2 linked regions of the Homo sapiens genome follow. The protein of the gene in region 1 purifies or fractionates together with the protein of each later gene. This does not show direct contact. Each region holds a gene or a part of one and is shown on either strand. Other genes may lie near its edges. The genes, in order: MED25 and CDK8.

What was found.
Region 2: the proteins of MED25 (region 1) and CDK8 purify together in Homo sapiens (affinity purification with mass spectrometry; 9 studies listed by BioGRID and IntAct, with this or other methods). This does not show direct contact.

Annotation. Positions count from the first base shown.
Region 1 is NC_000019.10:49,827,584-49,836,450, forward strand, and holds part of MED25 (mediator of RNA polymerase II transcription subunit 25), read left to right. Parts: intron 1-865; coding exon 866-964; intron 965-1,386; coding exon 1,387-1,507; intron 1,508-2,202; coding exon 2,203-2,365; intron 2,366-2,504; coding exon 2,505-2,635; intron 2,636-2,927; coding exon 2,928-3,015; intron 3,016-3,110; coding exon 3,111-3,304; intron 3,305-3,749; coding exon 3,750-3,878; intron 3,879-4,352; coding exon 4,353-4,438; exon of another isoform or gene 4,439-4,516; coding exon 4,517-4,574; intron 4,575-4,724; coding exon 4,725-4,832; intron 4,833-7,402; coding exon 7,403-7,594; intron 7,595-7,950; coding exon 7,951-8,022; intron 8,023-8,143; coding exon 8,144-8,362; intron 8,363-8,642; coding exon 8,643-8,823; intron 8,824-8,867. UniProt on the Homo sapiens protein: Component of the Mediator complex, a coactivator involved in the regulated transcription of nearly all RNA polymerase II-dependent genes.
Region 2 is NC_000013.11:26,395,802-26,404,668, forward strand, and holds part of CDK8 (cyclin-dependent kinase 8), read left to right. Parts: intron 1-483; coding exon 484-553; intron 554-1,351; coding exon 1,352-1,424; intron 1,425-4,651; coding exon 4,652-4,749; intron 4,750-5,467; coding exon 5,468-5,546; intron 5,547-5,664; coding exon 5,665-5,823; intron 5,824-8,154; coding exon 8,155-8,280; 3' UTR 8,281-8,867.

The sequences.
Region 1 (8,867 bases):
TTCACAGACACCAGCCATAGTGGATTAGGGCCCGCAATTTAACTCGATTACCTGTGTAAAGATCTTTCCAAATTAGGTCACCTTCTGAGGTACTGGGGCTTAGGACCTCAACCTGTCTTTTTGAAGGGGGCACACTTGAACCCATAAGACTAGGAGGACAGAGGAGGCCCCCGTCTCTGGCTGGGAAGGTGAAGTGGGGCCAGGACTGATTTGGAGCAGACAGCCCAGAGAGGGGAGGGGACAGCAGGAGGCTGGGCATGGAGTCAGTCACTCCAGGGTTGGAGTCAGCACAGGATCCTAGGCTTGGGGTCCCCAGCCCTTTCCCATTCCCTCCCAGTCCTCATGATTAAAGACAACAAATGTCGGCCGGGTGTGGTGGCTCACTCCTGCAATCCCAGCACTTTGGGAGGCTGAGGCAAGTGGATCATGAGGTCAGGAGATGGAGACCATCCTGGCTAACATGGTGAAATCCCGTCTCTACTAAAAATACAAAAAATTAGCCAGGTGTGGTGGCAGGCACCTGTAGTCCCAGCTACTCGGGAGACTGAGGCAGGAGAATGGCATGAACCCAGGAAGCGGAGCTTGCAGTGAACTGAGATCATGCCACTGCATTCCAGCCTGGGCGACAGAGCGAGACTCCATCTCAAAAAAAAAAAAAAACACAGACAGCAAATGTCCCCTGTCCTGTCTGGGACTGGTGCTGTGCTAGCACCAGGGATTGGGTAGGGAACTCAGCAGGGTCCCCGTCATCCCAAGGTGCATAGCCCAGGATAGAGTGGGGGACAGCATGGGAGCAGGCTCTTCAAGCATAGCCTGGGGATGGGGATGATGGCAACCCTGGGGGCTGACCGCTCTGCCCCTGCAGGTTCATGGGCGGGGGTGGTGAGAGCTGCAGCCTCATCGCGGAAGGACTCAGCACAGCCTTGCAGCTGTTTGATGACTTCAAGAAGATGCGCGAGCAGATGTGAGTGCCCCCTCCACCCAGGCCGGGCCGGTCTCTCTCTGCCTGGCCTGGAACCACTTTGCCTGTCGAGTGGTTCTACCTCCAGCCTCACCCTGTAGGGCATGGGCTCTGTGTCCCCAAGCACGCTGAGCCAGGAGGCTGCAGGTGTGTCCTTGGGGGACGCCTGGCCAGTGCCCGGTCTCAGCATCCCCATCAGGAAGCAGTGCCAACTCTGGGTGTCACTCCTGCCTGCCCTGCCTGCTGGGTGACGTAGAGCACATCCCAGAACCTCTTGGAGCCTCAGTGTTCTCAGCTGTAAAGTAGGGGCGTTGCTTCTGATTCCATGTGAGGCGGAATATGTGCATCTCCGCTGGTGCTGGGTCTGGGTTCCTTCTCAGGGCCTCTGTTGCTGCTGGCTCCATGTCTTCTCTCTTTCCTGGTAGTGGCCAGACGCACCGGGTCTGCCTCCTCATCTGCAACTCACCCCCATACTTGTTGCCTGCTGTTGAGAGCACCACGTACTCTGGATGCACAACTGAGAATCTTGTGCAGCAGATTGGGGAGGTGAGGACTCCAGGGTCTGAGGGACGAGGGTCTGGGGGCCCGGAGTCTTGGGTCTGAGGCAGGAGGCACTGAGGGCCTGGACTCCTGGGTCTGAGGGAGGAGGCACTGGGGGCCTGGACTCTTGGGTCTAAGCGGGGAGGCACTGGGGGCCTGGACTCAGACACAGAATAGTCACAGACTGGTGACCAGCTTTGCTTACTCTCTTTTCGAAACAGTCTGGCTCTGTTACCCAGGCTGGAGTGCAGTGGTGTGATCTTGGCCCACTGCAGCCTCTGCCTCCAGGGTTCAAGCAATTCTCATGTTTCAGCCTCCCGAGTAGCTGGGATTATAGACGCCCGCCACCACGCCCAGCTGATTTTTGTATCTTTAGTAGAGATGAGGTTTCACCATGTTGGCCAGACTGCTCTCAAACTCCTGGCCTCATGTGATCTGCCTGACTCGGTCTCACAAAATCCTGGGATTACAGACGTGAGCCTCCACACCTGGCCCACTTAGTCTTACTGACAAAACTAGAACCCAGAGTCTCCCGGGGCAGGTGATACCTGGTTTCAGGGTCTCCTGCCTCAAAGCCCAATGGGAATTGTGGTTGTAGGGCTGGTGCCGTCCAGCCACACAGCAGTTGTGGTAGGTTGGGGGCCGGCCCCAACACCCTTATGGAGGGGGCCCGTCATGACTGCTCGGCCCCTCTCCTACAGCGGGGGATCCACTTCTCCATTGTGTCTCCCCGGAAGCTGCCTGCGCTTCGGCTTCTGTTTGAGAAGGCAGCCCCCCCGGCCTTGCTGGAGCCGCTGCAGCCTCCGACAGATGTGAGCCAGGACCCGAGGCACATGGTGCTGGTTCGGGGACTCGTGCTGCCTGGTGAGGCCTGGGCACCGTGCGCGGGGATGGGGGCTCGACGTGTTTCCCCAGCTCCCTCTGACTTGGATTTTGGATTTCTCTCCTTTCTCTGCATCTTGAATCCCTTCTCTCTGGGGTTGGCCATCCCTCCTGCTCTCAGTTGGGGGTGGCTCAGCCCCAGGCCCCCTCCAGTCAAAGCAGCCAGTCCCCCTGCCTCCCGCCGCACCCTCAGGTGCCACTCTCTCAGCAGCCCCCCAGCAGCCTCTGCCCCCCGTCCCCCCGCAGTACCAGGTATGGATATTTCCGGGAAGGGACATGCTTCTGGGGACTTGCTGGAGCCCTGGCCCCTGGGGAGAAATCTAGTTGCATGTTGGAGCTTGTGGGATGATGGGAGTCCCATGGGACATTGGGAAGGTGGGACTCTTGGGGCCATGGAAGCTCATGTGCTGTGTGATGGGTGTTGTGAGCTAAGCTATCCCAGCTGGTGCCTCATGGGGCCATGGGTGGTGTGACCTCGTGGGATACCAGGACTGGGGGGCCATGGTCCTCACCAGTCCCTTCCCTTCTTCCCTTCTACCCACAGGTTCCCGGGAACCTGAGTGCAGCTCAGGTGGCCGCGCAGAATGCAGTGGAGGCTGCCAAGAACCAGAAGGCTGGGCTGGGCCCTCGCTGTGAGTCCTGGAGTGAGGATGAAGGGCGGGCAGGGGCCAGGCAGGCCTCTCTCCACACACTTGTTCCCCACTTCTTCCCTTGGTCTCTCCCACAGTCTCGCCCATCACCCCTCTCCAACAAGCTGCTCCCGGAGTGGGTCCCCCCTTCAGCCAGGCCCCAGCTCCCCAACTACCCCCAGGACCCCCTGGCGCCCCCAAGCCACCACCTGCTTCCCAGCCCAGTCTGGTCTCCACTGTGGCCCCTGGCTCCGGCCTGGCTCCCACGGCACAGCCCGGGGCACCGTCCATGGTAGGTGCCTGCACGCCTCCTGCCCCTGCTCCTTCCTCCTGCTGTCCACAGCTAGGACAGTTAGAGGATGAGTCATTTGCCTTCCAGGGGGATGTGGCTCTCGTGGTTCTGGGGCTTTGGGGGCTCGTGGTGTGTGTGCTGCAGATGCCTGAGATGAGGGTCTGGGGACAGAGTGGGGAGGCTCATGGCTCCAGGAGGGTCAGGGCTGTTCCGAGAAACCCAAGGAATCCCTGGGTCTGGGAGTCCAGGGCATCGCACAGCTTACGAGTCCTCGAATCCTGCAAGGTCCAAGCATTTGGGGTCCTGCGGCTGGCCAAGTGCTGTTCTGGGGATGGAGGGGCAGAAGAAGGGATCTTTCCTCCTTCCTGGTTTGCCCTCACAGGATGGCCCCCGGAGGCTCCCGGCCTTCCCCATTCTCATGGCCCTCCTTCCTCCCCTCTGGCAGGCAGGCACTGTGGCCCCAGGAGGGGTGAGCGGCCCTTCCCCAGCCCAGCTGGGAGCCCCAGCCCTCGGTGGGCAGCAGTCAGTCTCCAATAAGCTTCTGGCCTGGAGCGGGGTCCTGGAGTGGCAAGAGGTGAGGGGCCTGAGGGTCCATTGGGCACTTGGGACTCCTGGGGCCGTGGGGCTGGGCATGTAGGACTCATGGGGCCAGATGCGTGGGGTCTGCAGTGCTGGGTTTGGAGGCATTCGTTGCGCTGGACCTGTGGGATGCGGGGCGAGGCCAGGAGCCCCATGGAGTGGTGGGACTTGCGGTACAGAGGAGAGTCCCCATGCAAAGAACCCAGAAAAGCCCAGGATTTGGGGCCCAGAGAAGAGCCCAGGCGATGTATCATCTGGGGCACAGTGGATGGTGGGATTTAGGGGCCGGGCACGTAGCTGTAACATTTGAGGAACTGAAGGCTTGCTGGTCTGGAGGAGGGGCCTGGGGCTCATGGGACTTAAACTGGGGAACATCCTGAGCTTTGGGGCTACCAGGGTAGGACATGAGGGCTCAAGGGGACTGAGGCTTATGGCCCTTTTTACTGACATGCTCTTTTTTCCCCCTCAGAAACCCAAACCTGCCTCAGTGGATGCCAACACCAAGCTGACGCGGTCACTGCCCTGCCAGGTCTACGTGAATCATGGCGAGAACCTGTAGGTGACAGTCAGGGGCGGGGTGTGGTGGGGCTGGGGCTGGCCCCCTCCTCACACCTCTCCTGGCATCGCCCCCAGGAAGACGGAGCAGTGGCCCCAGAAGCTGATCATGCAGCTCATCCCCCAGCAGCTGCTGGTGAGTGGCGGTGGAGGGCCAGCCCTGCTGCCGGGCAGTCCTCACCCTGCTGTCTCTTTCCTGTTCCCTGCCCCACCCCCACTCCCTGCCTCATGTCCCCGCCTCACTTGCCCACACCAGCATGCCAGCCGACTTCTGTGTCTCCCGCAGACCACCCTGGGCCCTTTGTTCCGGAACTCAAGGATGGTCCAGTTCCATTTCACCAACAAGGACCTGGAGTCTCTCAAAGGCCTCTACCGCATCATGGGCAACGGCTTCGTGAGTCCAGGGCATGGGGGGCCGAGGGGTGTTGACTCTTGTCCTGCTTTCTGCTGACCTTTGACGGGAATCCCAGAGTGCCTGGGCCCACGGAAGCCGTTTTTGATGGTTGGGTGCACTTCATGCCCTTAGGTTCCTCGCCTTTCTTCTAGAGCCGTGACTTTTATTATAATCATCGTATGCACCAGATTTGAGGGATATTCCACATTAAAAATGTGAGCTGGATGTGACAGGATCAGTTAGGAGGAAGCTGTTGATTCTGGCATGGCTTTATGGGATGTGTTCATTTCCTGTGGCTGTGGTAACACATTACCACAAGCAGAGGGGCTTAAAACAACAGAAACGTGTTCTATCCCAGTTCTGGAGGCCAGAAGCCCAAGGTCAGGGTGTCAGCAGGGCCACGCTCTCTCTAGAGGCTGGAGGGAAGGCCTCTTCGTTGCCTCTTCCGGCCGGTAACCCCAGGCTTCAGGTGGCATCGCTCCAGGGTCTTCCTCCATCCCGCAGCTGTCTTCCCTCTGTGTGTGTCTCCACATGGCATTCTCTCTGTATCTTTGTGTCTGTGCTTATAAGGACATCAGTAATTTTGGATTAGGCCCCATTTTCCTGACCTCATCTTACTACAATTGCAAAGACCCTCTTTCCAGATAGAGTCACCTTCACAGGTGCTGGGGACTGGAACCTCAGCTTAGCTTTCTGGTTTTGTTTTTTGAGACAGAGTTTCACTGTTGTCAGCCAGGCTGGAGTGCAGTGGTGCAATCTTGGCTCACAGCAACTTCCGTCTCCTGGGTTCAAGCGATTCTCCTGCCTCAGCCTCCCAAGTAGCTGGGATTACAGGCATGTGCCACTATGCCCAGCTAATTTCTGTATTTTTTAGTAGAGACAGGGTTTCACCATGTTGGCCAGGTTGGTCTCGAACTTCTGACCTCAAGTGATCTGCCTGCCTCGGCCTCCCAAAGTGCTAGGATTACCGGTGTGAGCCACCGCGCCCAGCCTCAGCATAGCTTTCTGGGAGTCACAGTTCACACTTTGTAACTCGGGGAAGGAGCAGATCAGTTACTTCCGTGCACCAGGCACTCCTGCAGGAAAGAGAACCTTAGGGGGATCACCTCACGAGACCCTCACAGAACCTTGTGAAGAAGGCATTCCTGAGAGTTAGTACTTCCGGCTGCAAATCACGTAGTTTCCCAAACACATAGATAATTGGGGGCACTCGGAAAAAATGTTCTCTTATGATTCTGTGGGTCACCTGGGCTCAGTGGGCCATCTCGCTTGGCGACTCTCACGGGGTTGCCATCAGATGGCAGCTGAGACTCTGGTCATCTGAAACCTTTACTGGGCTGGATGTTCAAAACAGCTCCTCACACAGCCCTGGCTGTTGGCTGGGGCTTGGCTAGGACCGGCCATCCCAGTGTCTGCACATGGCCTGTCCACGTGGCCACACTGTGGCAGCTGGGTTCTGAGAGGGCAGGCGTTGTAGGAGCAGGCATTTATATTTTGCACAGGACAGGACATCTAGAGGGGGCCAGCTATTGGGATTGGTTTCATAGGTCTGTGACATCAGGGACAGGGCCCTGTGGTTCTCTTGGCCTCTCCTTTATAGTCACAAGGTAGCTCTCATGGCTCCACGCATCCTGTGTGCTTTCATGAAGGAGGGGAAGGGGGCTGTGTGTTTCCCTTTCTTCAAGACAGCAGAAACTTTCTCAGATTCCAGAGCAGGCATTCCTTTCACCTCCTATCCCGGACCTAGGCCACTGGGCAGCCCCTAGTTGATGGGAGGCTGCTGGGAGCAGGTATCCGTGACTGTCTGGGGCTGGGACATGTTACAGCCCCAGACAGCATTGGGAATGCAGGGGAGGAGGACACTTGGATATGGAATAGGCAGCTAGCAGGGTCTGTCTCAGGCAGGAAACCGAGGCTCAGAGAAGTCAATTCACTTGGCCAAGGTCAGCCTCGCCTCCCTCAGGAGCCCCTGCCCTGAATGCTCCATGTGTTACCCCCCTGATGACCAGTGATGTTTCCTGGGTGCTTCCTGTGGGCTGAGCCTCAGGCAGGGCTCTTGCTGTGGATCAGACATCGCATAGTCACAGCGACCCTGTGATGTGGGAGCACTCCCCGTGGTGTACACTGGCCGGTGCTGAGGGCTGGAGGATCTCTTGGATACCCGGGGTCCGACCCACCGTTGATCACAGGCCTGTGGGTACCACGCTGTGCATCTAGGCCGCTCTCCCGGCCGTGACCCTCAGCCGCCCTCTGAGGAGGCCGCCGTGGCATTTTATGCCCAAGAAACTGGGTCCATGAGGAGCAGGTGGTGGCTGAAGGTTGAAGAGCTGGGCTCCAGCACTTTCTCTCCGCTTTCCCTCTCAGTGGGCAGCTGGAACCCTAGCTTGCCCTGAGCGCCTCAGTTTCTGTCTCCAGAGCAACCCATAGCACACCTGTTCTCCTTAACCTTCTATAGCAGAAACCTCACCTCACCTTGCCTGTGGGGCCTCTAGAGCCTTCTGGAATGGGGAGGGGGTCAGGGCTGCCTCTTTCAGGGCCTGAATGGTTCTGAAGAGCTGTTGTCCACCCAGGCGGGCTGCGTGCACTTCCCCCACACGGCGCCCTGTGAGGTGCGCGTGCTCATGCTCCTGTACTCGTCCAAGAAGAAGATCTTCATGGGCCTCATCCCCTACGACCAGAGCGGCTTCGTCAACGGCATCCGGCAGGTCATCACCAACCACAAGCAGGTCCAGCAGCAGAAGCTGGAGCAGCAGCAGCGAGGAGTGAGTGTTGACAGTCCCCAAACCAGCACTCCGACCCCCTCCTGCCCGGGCCCCACATGGCCCCCTGGGGTCTCCAGGACCAAGATGCCCACCCTTCTCCCAATATGTGGTGCCTCCAAGCTAAGTCCCACTCAGATTTTCTTGCAGTCTCTCTCCTTTTTCAGCATCCACATCAAAGCCCTGACACAGCTTCCTCCTGGAGACCTTGGAGTGTACGGCATCCCTCCCAGACCACTCACCCCCAAAGAGAATGTCCCCATCTCCTTACTAGTTCCCCTCAGGGCACAGGCCCTCCCGCCTCAGATTCAGGATGCCACCACCCTCAGTTACTGACCTGCCCCTCTCTCCCCGTGCAGATGGGGGGACAGCAGGCACCCCCAGGGCTGGGGCCCATTCTGGAGGACCAAGCCAGGCCCTCACAGAATCTGGTGAGGACAGGGCTGGCGGGGTCGGGGCTGGGTTGGGGAGGCCCCAAGGCTGCGCTCTGTGCCTGCAGAAGGGGCGTGAGGCCCTGCCCATCTCCCTCACCCCTGTGTCTCTTCCCACCAGCTCCAGCTCCGCCCACCGCAGCCCCAGCCTCAGGGTACCGTAGGGGCCTCTGGGGCCACGGGGCAGCCCCAGCCCCAAGGTACTGCCCAGCCCCCGCCAGGTGCCCCTCAAGGCCCTCCTGGAGCAGCTTCTGGCCCACCCCCTCCTGGACCCATCCTTCGGCCCCAGAACCCTGGGGCCAACCCTCAGCTGCGAAGCCTCCTCCTCAACCCACCACCGGTGAGATGTTGGGGTGGGGTAGCGAGAGTTCCAGATCCTGGCCCTGGTGGTTCTGGTCCTGTTGTCTGGGAGGAGGGAGGTTGACTGTGGTCAGTGGGTGTGAATGGGGACCCGCCCAGGGCTTTAGGCAGAAGGCAGACCGCCTCCTCTCCGTCCATCCCCCACCTTTGAAGAAAAACTTCCCCTCACCACTAGCTGATTCCATCTCTGAGCAGTGTCTGTGTTGAGAGGTGGGGAGTCTCTACCAGGAGCCTCTGAGCCACTCTCTGTGTTCTCCCAGCCGCAGACTGGGGTGCCCCCACCCCAGGCCTCCCTCCACCACCTCCAGCCACCAGGGGCTCCTGCGCTGCTGCCTCCGCCGCACCAGGGCCTGGGGCAGCCCCAGTTGGGGCCCCCACTCCTGCATCCACCACCTGCCCAGTCCTGGCCCGCACAACTTCCCCCTCGGGCTCCACTGCCAGGTAAGGGGACCCGGGGGAGGGCAGAGGTCTGGACTGAGTGTCCC
Region 2 (8,867 bases), on another chromosome or scaffold:
GAAATATATTTAACAAGGTGAAAGGAGGGCTGTATCATAAAAAGAAGTATAGTTTAAAGCCACTGAGGGGAAGATCTTAGATTTCTCATTGAAGAAATTGATTGCTGACTTAACCAAGAAATTTGGTAGAAAAGGGGAAATAAGCAGTTTTACTAATAGAAAGAGGACATTTAATAAGATAAATAGAAATATGTATAACTTATTCTTCTCTAGTGACAGAAATTGAGGCAGCTTATAGTAAAACATACAGAAAGTTTGCAGTTTAAAATTTAAAATATAAACAGATATATAAAGTTATATAAGGGATAAGGAATTATGTTTACACTTCAAGATATTTACTGTTGCTGAACATTTATTTGAAGACAGCTTTTTTGTGTGGAGGTTGAACGGATAGGAAATGTAATGAACGTGGTAATAACCTTTTTAAAAATTCTCAAGAATAGGAACTTAGGCAACATAAAAATTTATCAATGTATTTCACAGATAAAGATTGGGAAGATATAAAAAAGATGCCTGAACATTCAACATTAATGAAAGATTTCAGAAGAAATACGTAAGTTGGAAAAAAAGAGACTCCTTGTTGATTTTTGCTTTACCAGAATACTCAGTGTAAGACTGAATATTCAACATAATAAAATACTCAATATAAGATTACTCTAATAAATAATTTTACTTATTTACTCTAATAAATATTTTTCATGATGACAGTCTTTATTTCTTAAGATGCTTAAATGATTATATACAAAAGTGACTAATATTAGCAGCTGATTTGGATATAAAACAAATTCATGTCTTTCCATATTGACTACTTTTTGGAAGCTAGACATTAGTGAGAAGTATCACAGCTGAATAAATAAGAATCTAAATAAATAAACTTTGGTAATAGCCACTTGCTCACCAATCTAGGTTACAGTAATTTTAAGCAGGTTTTAACAGAGAAGAATGGATATTTCACCTGTTTACAATGCAAAGCCAGGGATTGGGAGAGTTTAGTTTGTATACCTATGACAAAAGTATTTTACACTTATTGGTAAGGCTGAATTAAACTTTTGACCCAGATGTTATTTAAAATAATTGTTAAAATATAATTCATGTGAAAAAAAAAGCTGTTTAGTGTCTGTTATTCATGAAATTGTCTTACATTTAATCATCGGTATCCTTTCAAAAGTGACCATTGTGGATATTGAATGAAATAGAAAACTGATTTAATTCTACTCATTTTATGCTCATAGTGTTTTCAATATATATTTTATATCGGTTATGATCAAAATAATTCTCATCAGAAGGACTTTAGCCAATGTACAATTAACCTCAAGTCTAATATAGCTATTTCATAGTATTTCTCTTTCAGGTATACCAACTGCAGCCTTATCAAGTATATGGAAAAACATAAAGTTAAACCAGATAGTAAAGCATTCCACTTGGTAAGCATTGGTTAACAGTATTAATGAAATGCATTTTTTCCTTAATTGACTAGCCCAACTGAGGCTTTTTTGGATCAATTTATGTGGTTACTTAGCTAGCACTCAGAGTGCTTTCATGGTAAATGCAGAGATCTTGTTAGTGCATACCAATAAAGACAATAAACTATTTGCTCTTCCAGACTCATATCATGGTTTGACAGACTAATGTTTGGTCACATTAGATTTTCTAAAGATAGCGATGGTAACAAATCTGTCAAAACATTTATAAAATTACATGTATTGTTTTTCGTCTGTTTAAGATTTTAAAAGTTCCAGAGAAGTATCAAGAAGAAAGTACTTCTCACCATTGATAAATAGATTGTTTTGTATTTCAGCTCTTTGAAAGACTGTTTACAAAGTTCTTAATTTCCAAAATACCTCTTATAACCTTAAATGTTAACAGTCATTCAGCGATTATATGTGCTATTTGATTTTTCTGGAAGAATGTGATAGATGCCATATTTATCAGTGTGTAATGGAAAAATGATTTAACCTAGAATCTAATTGAATCCGTGCACTAACAAGGTAATTTGTGATGAAATTATATACAGCCATTACCAACTTTGTTTACAATAAAATTTCCATTGTTACAGCGTAATAATTAATAATGTTTTTTGTTTTAGAAAAAGGTTTATAACACATAGAAGGGGAGTTTGGGGAAGCAGGTTGTATTTTGCTTGGCTTGAAATTCTTTTAATCCTTATTCCTAAGTTCTTAAATGAGAATTCTTTCACCTTGAAGAGGTTAACCTTTCCTTTATTGCAACCAGGCCATTTGGCAAACATTTCTTCTGTTCTTCCTTTGTTTCTCCTTTTTCTTCGCTTTCTACTGCTTCTCCTTCTGTATTTTCTACTTACTATTATATCAGTTCACATTTTATATCATGTATTTCATATCTTAACAGCAATTTAAAAAGTCATTCTTAACCTGTCATATTACCACACAATATATTATCCAGATAATGGTTTATTATAATGTACTTACAGTAGGACCCAAATTAGAGGTCTAAGTTAGATCCTTCGAAATTATGGACTTACTGATTCTAATAAAATAATGATAGTGGCAGAAGATTAGAAGTCATGACTTAGGGGAATTATTATTCTCCTTGATTCCCTGCTACTCATTATAGTCTAGGATGACTCTGCCTACCATCACCACTAAAACTCTAGAGATATACCTTCCTTGTAGCTTATGTGCTTGTTTTTACCAGGGTGACCCATCTTAATTGGAGGTAATCTTGAGTAGTCTCTTAGGAAAGCCCTATTATAATTCCATTAAAACTGTTGGGTATTTTCAATAGCAAATTCAGGCCTTTCCTTTCAACCCTAAAAATAAAATTGTGCTTTCTCTGAAATATCAGATCATTAAAATTAAATTTTAATCTCACCATTCTAGCGTTTTATTTGCATCTTAAAATATGTCGTGTCGGCCTGGCGTGGTAGCTCACGCCTGTGATCCCAGCACTTTGGGAGGCCGAGGCGGGCGGATCACAAGGTCAGGAGATTGAGACCATCCTGGCCAATGTGGTGAAACTCCTAAAAATACAAAAAGTAGCTGAGTGTGGTGGTACATGCCTGTAGTCCCAGCTACTCGGGAGGTTGAGGCAGGAGAATCGCTTGAACCCAGGAGGTGGAGGTTGCAGTGAGCCTAGATCGTGCCACTGCACTCTAGCCTGGCAACAAAGCAAGACTCTATCTCAAAAAAAAAAAAAAATGTCTTTTTATCCTGTAAAATTTGTCATCTTTCTTTAAGTCTTTTTTGTTGGAGACACAGTTTCATTGTGTCACCAGGCTAGAGTGCAGTGGTGTGATCTTGGCTCACTGCAACCTCTGCCTCCCAGGTTCAAGCCATTCTCATGCCTCAGCCTCCCGAGTACCTGGGATTACAGGCGCCTGCCACCACACCCAGCTAATTTTTGTATTATTAGTAGAGATGGGGTTTCACCATGTTGACCAGGCTGGTCTCGAACTCCTGACCTCAGGTGATCCATCCACCTTGGCCTCCCAAAGTGCTGGGATTACAGGTGTGAGCCACCACACCTGGCCTCTCTTTTAAGTCTTAATGTGTCTGTTAGTTCATTGGTTTTCAAAATGCAGTCTCAGTCCAGCAGCATGGTATCATGTAGGGCCATGTTGGAAATGCAGGCTTTTGGCTCCTACTCACATCTACCAATCAGAAACTCTGTGAGGAGGGCCCAGCAGTCTGTTTTAAGAAGTTCTCCAGGTGATTCTCATGCATCCTAAAGTCCGAAAGCCACTGCATTAGATCAGAGTATAAACTAAGAGACCACATATTAGAATCCAATTGAATGAACTATGTCTTAACTAAAAAATACTGAATCTTCACATTAGTGTGGCATTTATAGTAATAATAACAATAAGAGCAAGCACTTACATAGTACTTTCTTTATGCTAGGCACCATTATAATTGCTCTCCATATATTAACTCATTTAATCCTGAAAACAACCTGTGATAATAGTCACCATTTTTAATCTCCATTTGACAAATGAGGTAACAAAAATATTAAGGTAACTTATCCAATGTCACGCAGCTAATAAATGTTGAGTCAGGATTTGAATGGAGCAGTCGACTTTCAGAGTCTCTGCTCATCACACAGCTCTGTACTTTGTAAGTTGTGTATCACCATTTTTATTTAGACTAGAACAGCACTGCACAGTACCACTTTCTGTGATGATCTGCACAGTGCAGTAGCGTAGCCACTAGCCACATTTGGCTCTTGAAATGTGCCTGGTGTAATGGGGAGATTGACTTTTTTATTTAATTCAGTTTTGATTAACTTGGATCTAAATATGAATCACTGCATGTGTTAGTGTATTATATGTGTAACAACAGCTTTTTTATCTTAATAGAAAAAGAATAGAAAATACACAAATTTTGGTCCTGTTCTAAATTGGATAAAGCCATTTAGATAATGGGGGTGGGGATCCATTTGTTTAGTCAGAGAACATAAGCAAGAGTAAAACAAGTGAGATTATGAAACTGGAATGACTAAAGTGTGAATTACTACATTAAATTTAACAACTAGGAGTTTTGTTGTTAATTTGGGGGAATAAATATTTTCCAAATTGTGATGTTATTCACCAAAAAATATATATCGTCTTCACATATGTGCTGAAAGATAACTGTGAGAAGCAATACCGTCATGTTTGTATGATTTGTGATTTCAGCTTCAGAAGCTGCTTACCATGGACCCAATAAAGCGAATTACCTCAGAACAGGCTATGCAGGACCCCTATTTCTTAGAAGACCCACTTCCTACATCAGAGTAAGTGGCCTAGTTGGTTAACTCATCAGCATGATGGAAGTTTTGGAGTATGCTTTCTTCTGCTTGTCAGCTCTTAAGTTGCTCCTCCTCTTATATGGGAACCCAAGGAAATCCTTTATGACAAGCAAAAATGAGCTTTGCTGATTAAAGTGTCATTTAGGGGCTTTCCAGTTAAGAGGCATTCCTGTTCATCTCTTGCTTTATGAAATGCTGATCACATTAGTTTCAGTAGTGATCCAGCTATTCAGTGACAGGTTGGTTATGCGTGCTGTAGCTCCTTACTGTCTGCAGTTACAGTTTCATGTTCCAAAATTGCAAATATTCCCAAATGTGTTCCCTATACCATCTTTTGTTTTGTTAATAAATGTAGTAGGAAGGGTAAAACAAAAATTACCTTTGAATGGTGACACATACTTCAGCTAGAATCTATATTTGGTCTGTATTAATAGAAGAGTAATGCTGGGATAAAAGAAGAAAGCTGAATCATACTCGATGATTATTGATCATTTGTATACAGCTCAAGCCCTCAAGTAGCCTGCTGTAATATTACTAGTTACAAAGAAAAGATTCGTTTTGTCACAGTTACATGAAAGGTGCTTATATTTGCAAATATGGAGACAAAGTTCATCTTAAAAGATTAAAATGAGAATCTCCTAAATGAAGCATTTGGAATATTGATTAGTATACCAGAAATGGTTTTTCTTTTTCTTATGATCAGCGTTTTTGCCGGTTGTCAAATCCCTTACCCAAAACGAGAATTTTTAACGGAAGAAGAACCTGATGACAAAGGAGACAAAGTAAGTATTAAAGTACTGTTAGCAGCTTCTTGTTTCGTGAATGCCTCCATAACATTTTCCATTGTGGGTATATTTTGTTCTCCCTCTGAGCTGAACTTTTTCTGTTTAACCAATTGAGAAGAACCAGCAGCAGCAGCAGGGCAATAACCACACTAATGGAACTGGCCACCCAGGGAATCAAGACAGCAGTCACACACAGGGACCCCCGTTGAAGAAAGTGAGAGTTGTTCCTCCTACCACTACCTCAGGTGGACTTATCATGACCTCAGACTATCAGGTATTCCAAGTTTATTTTGTATTGACTGCATGTCAGTGTTTACATATGGGTTTATGATCGTGGGAAAATGTGATTTAATTGAGAAATACTGACGTCTGTATACCCAGGGAAATACATTAACATGAAATGTTACTGGCATGGAAAAGTACTGACAGTGGTATGGTAGCAAGGGTTTAGACTTTTGAACCAGACTTGGAATGATCAAATACAAATTATGCCATTTATTAACTGTGTGACCTTGGACAAGTAGGATAATATCTCCTGGCGTTTTTTCATCTGTAAAATGAAACTAGTAAAACCTAACTTGCAGCTGTTGTCAGATTAGACATGAAGTGGCTTGACACCTAGCTTATGGTAGGAGCTTGATAGCTATTGTTTTGGAACAATGTTTCACAGTGATTAAGAACATAGGCTTTCAGATCCCAGTCTGGCCACTTACTTCTCTGTATCCTTGAGTAAGTGATTCAGATGTTCTCAGTTTCCATTTGTAGACTGGATAATGATCAATGTGAAGCTGTAGTAAGGATTAAATGAGATAACTCTGGGAGGTTAAGTGTTGCAGCCATTTCAGGAAACTGAGGCTTGTAGAGGTTAAATAACTTTCACATGGATCCCCAGCAAGCTGTAGATGCAGGACTCATATTTGATCTGACCACAAAGGCTGTTATGTTGCCTGCTTAGGGATCCTATCATGGCATTGTCAGTTACGTTGTGGAAAGACCCTCTTTGAAAATTGTATACCACCTCCTTTTCTCTTCTGCTTATTCTAACCATATTCCCAACTACACAAGGGTTCAGTGTGGGAAGGATACTGAAAATCTGACCAATTAGAATTATTTACACACAAAAAAAAAGAGAGAGAGAAAGAGATGTTATTAAACTGATAAGGTCCCGAGTGCTCGTTACTGTACTTTCAGAATTAGGTATTAACTCTTTCTTTTGGTTAGGGGAGAAGTCCAGCCCATCACACCATGGAAATCACTGTTGTGTGAGTAGTAATTCTCTTCCAGTTAGCTAAACAAGGACACCAAGGGCAGACAGCTGTGGGAGTTGTTGGTTCCAGTATCTTTTTCTTCCTTTCCGGATGGGAAGAGTGCATCTCTCTTGGCCCACAAATGTGTTTGCACACTAAGGTGATGGCATCCTTAGAAGGAAGCAGAGCAGTGCTCTGACCTTCGCTTCTGGAACCGAGAAAATGATGCCATGCTGCTTTGTTGGTGTGATTGTTGTTGGTTTTTTGTGGATGAATTTTAAAATAGTATTTGTGACTATCATTTCATGTGTCCACTCTTTTTAAAAATGTTACCTTTTCTAGGATTGGCAGAATTTGGAATTATATGTCTTATTAAATATGCTTTGAAAGACAGAAGTAATAAGTTCTGGTTAATCTTTTATAGTGTTTGTCTTGGGAGCAAATAGTATGAGAGAGAGGTGTGAGAATGGGAATAATAATCTAACATATCAAAATTAGAGAACCCCAAACCATCACATTCTTTCTCTTTGTGCCATTTTAGAATTGAGAATACCGTCCTTCTTACTGTGGTTATATTTTTACTTTTGTATATAAACTTGTAGCAGAAAATAAGATTCAGTAGCTTAAAGGGGCCAGGCACTGTGGCTCATGCCCGTAATCCCAGTGGTTTAGAAGGCTGAGGGGAAGGATCACTTGAGGCCTGGAGTTTGAAATCAACCTGGGCAACATAGCAAGACTCTGTTCCTTCAAAAAAAATTTTTAAAAATTAGCTGAGCATGGAGGTGCATGCCTATAATCCTAGCAATGATTATACCATTACACTCCAGCCTGGATGATAGAGTGACACCCTGTCTCAAAAGAAAAAAAAAATAGTTTAAAGGGCATAAAAATGTATTAATGCCAAAGAAATGGATTCTGTGATACCTTCTCCTATCATACTCACTTTTACTCTTCAGTCATGTGTGTGGGGGTGAGTTTTCTACTGAAGAAAGCATGTAAATAAGCTTTGAATTTTTTATGTATACATCATTAAGTTTCTGGGTAAACATCTCAAGCAAATTTACCAAGTAGATACAAAACAGCATAAAAAGGGGTTACTCCTGTAGAAAAAAATGTATTTGCACAGCATAGTAATAAGCCTAGGCTTAATATTATTTACTAGCAATATTTCTGACCTTCCTCAAGAGAAGAGGATGTTAAAATATTTGGGGTTTTTGTCTTTAATTATAAAGTTAGTACATAGCACAAAACCTATACATCCTTTCTTCCTTGAAACATAATGACACTTCAGTCACATATTGGGATTGAGCTTCCCCTAGAAGCACCTGAATCACACTTTTCCCTCATCTCCTTTCCAGCGTTCCAATCCACATGCTGCCTATCCCAACCCTGGACCAAGCACATCACAGCCGCAGAGCAGCATGGGATACTCAGCTACCTCCCAGCAGCCTCCACAGTACTCACATCAGACACATCGGTACTGAGCTGCATCGGAATCTTGTCCATGCACTGTTGCGAATGCTGCAGGGCTGACTGTGCAGCTCTCTGCGGGAACCTGGTATGGGCCATGAGAATGTACTGTACAACCACATCTTCAAAATGTCCAGTAGCCAAGTTCCACCACTTTTCACAGATTGGGGTAGTGGCTTCCAAGTTGTACCTATTTTGGAGTTAGACTTGAAAAGAAAGTGCTAGCACAGTTTGTGTTGTGGATTTGCTACTTCCATAGTTTACTTGACATGGTTCAGACTGACCAATGCATTTTTTTCAGTGACAGTCTGTAGCAGTTGAAGCTGTGAATGTGCTAGGGGCAAGCATTTGTCTTTGTATGTGGTGAATTTTTTCAGTGTAACAACATTATCTGACCAATAGTACACACACAGACACAAAGTTTAACTGGTACTTGAAACATACAGTATATGTTAACGAAATAACCAAGACTCGAAATGAGATTATTTTGGTACACCTTTCTTTTTAGTGTCTTATCAGTGGGCTGATTCATTTTCTACATTAATCAGTGTTTTCTGACCAAGAATATTGCTTGGATTTTTTTGAAAGTACAAAAAGCCAC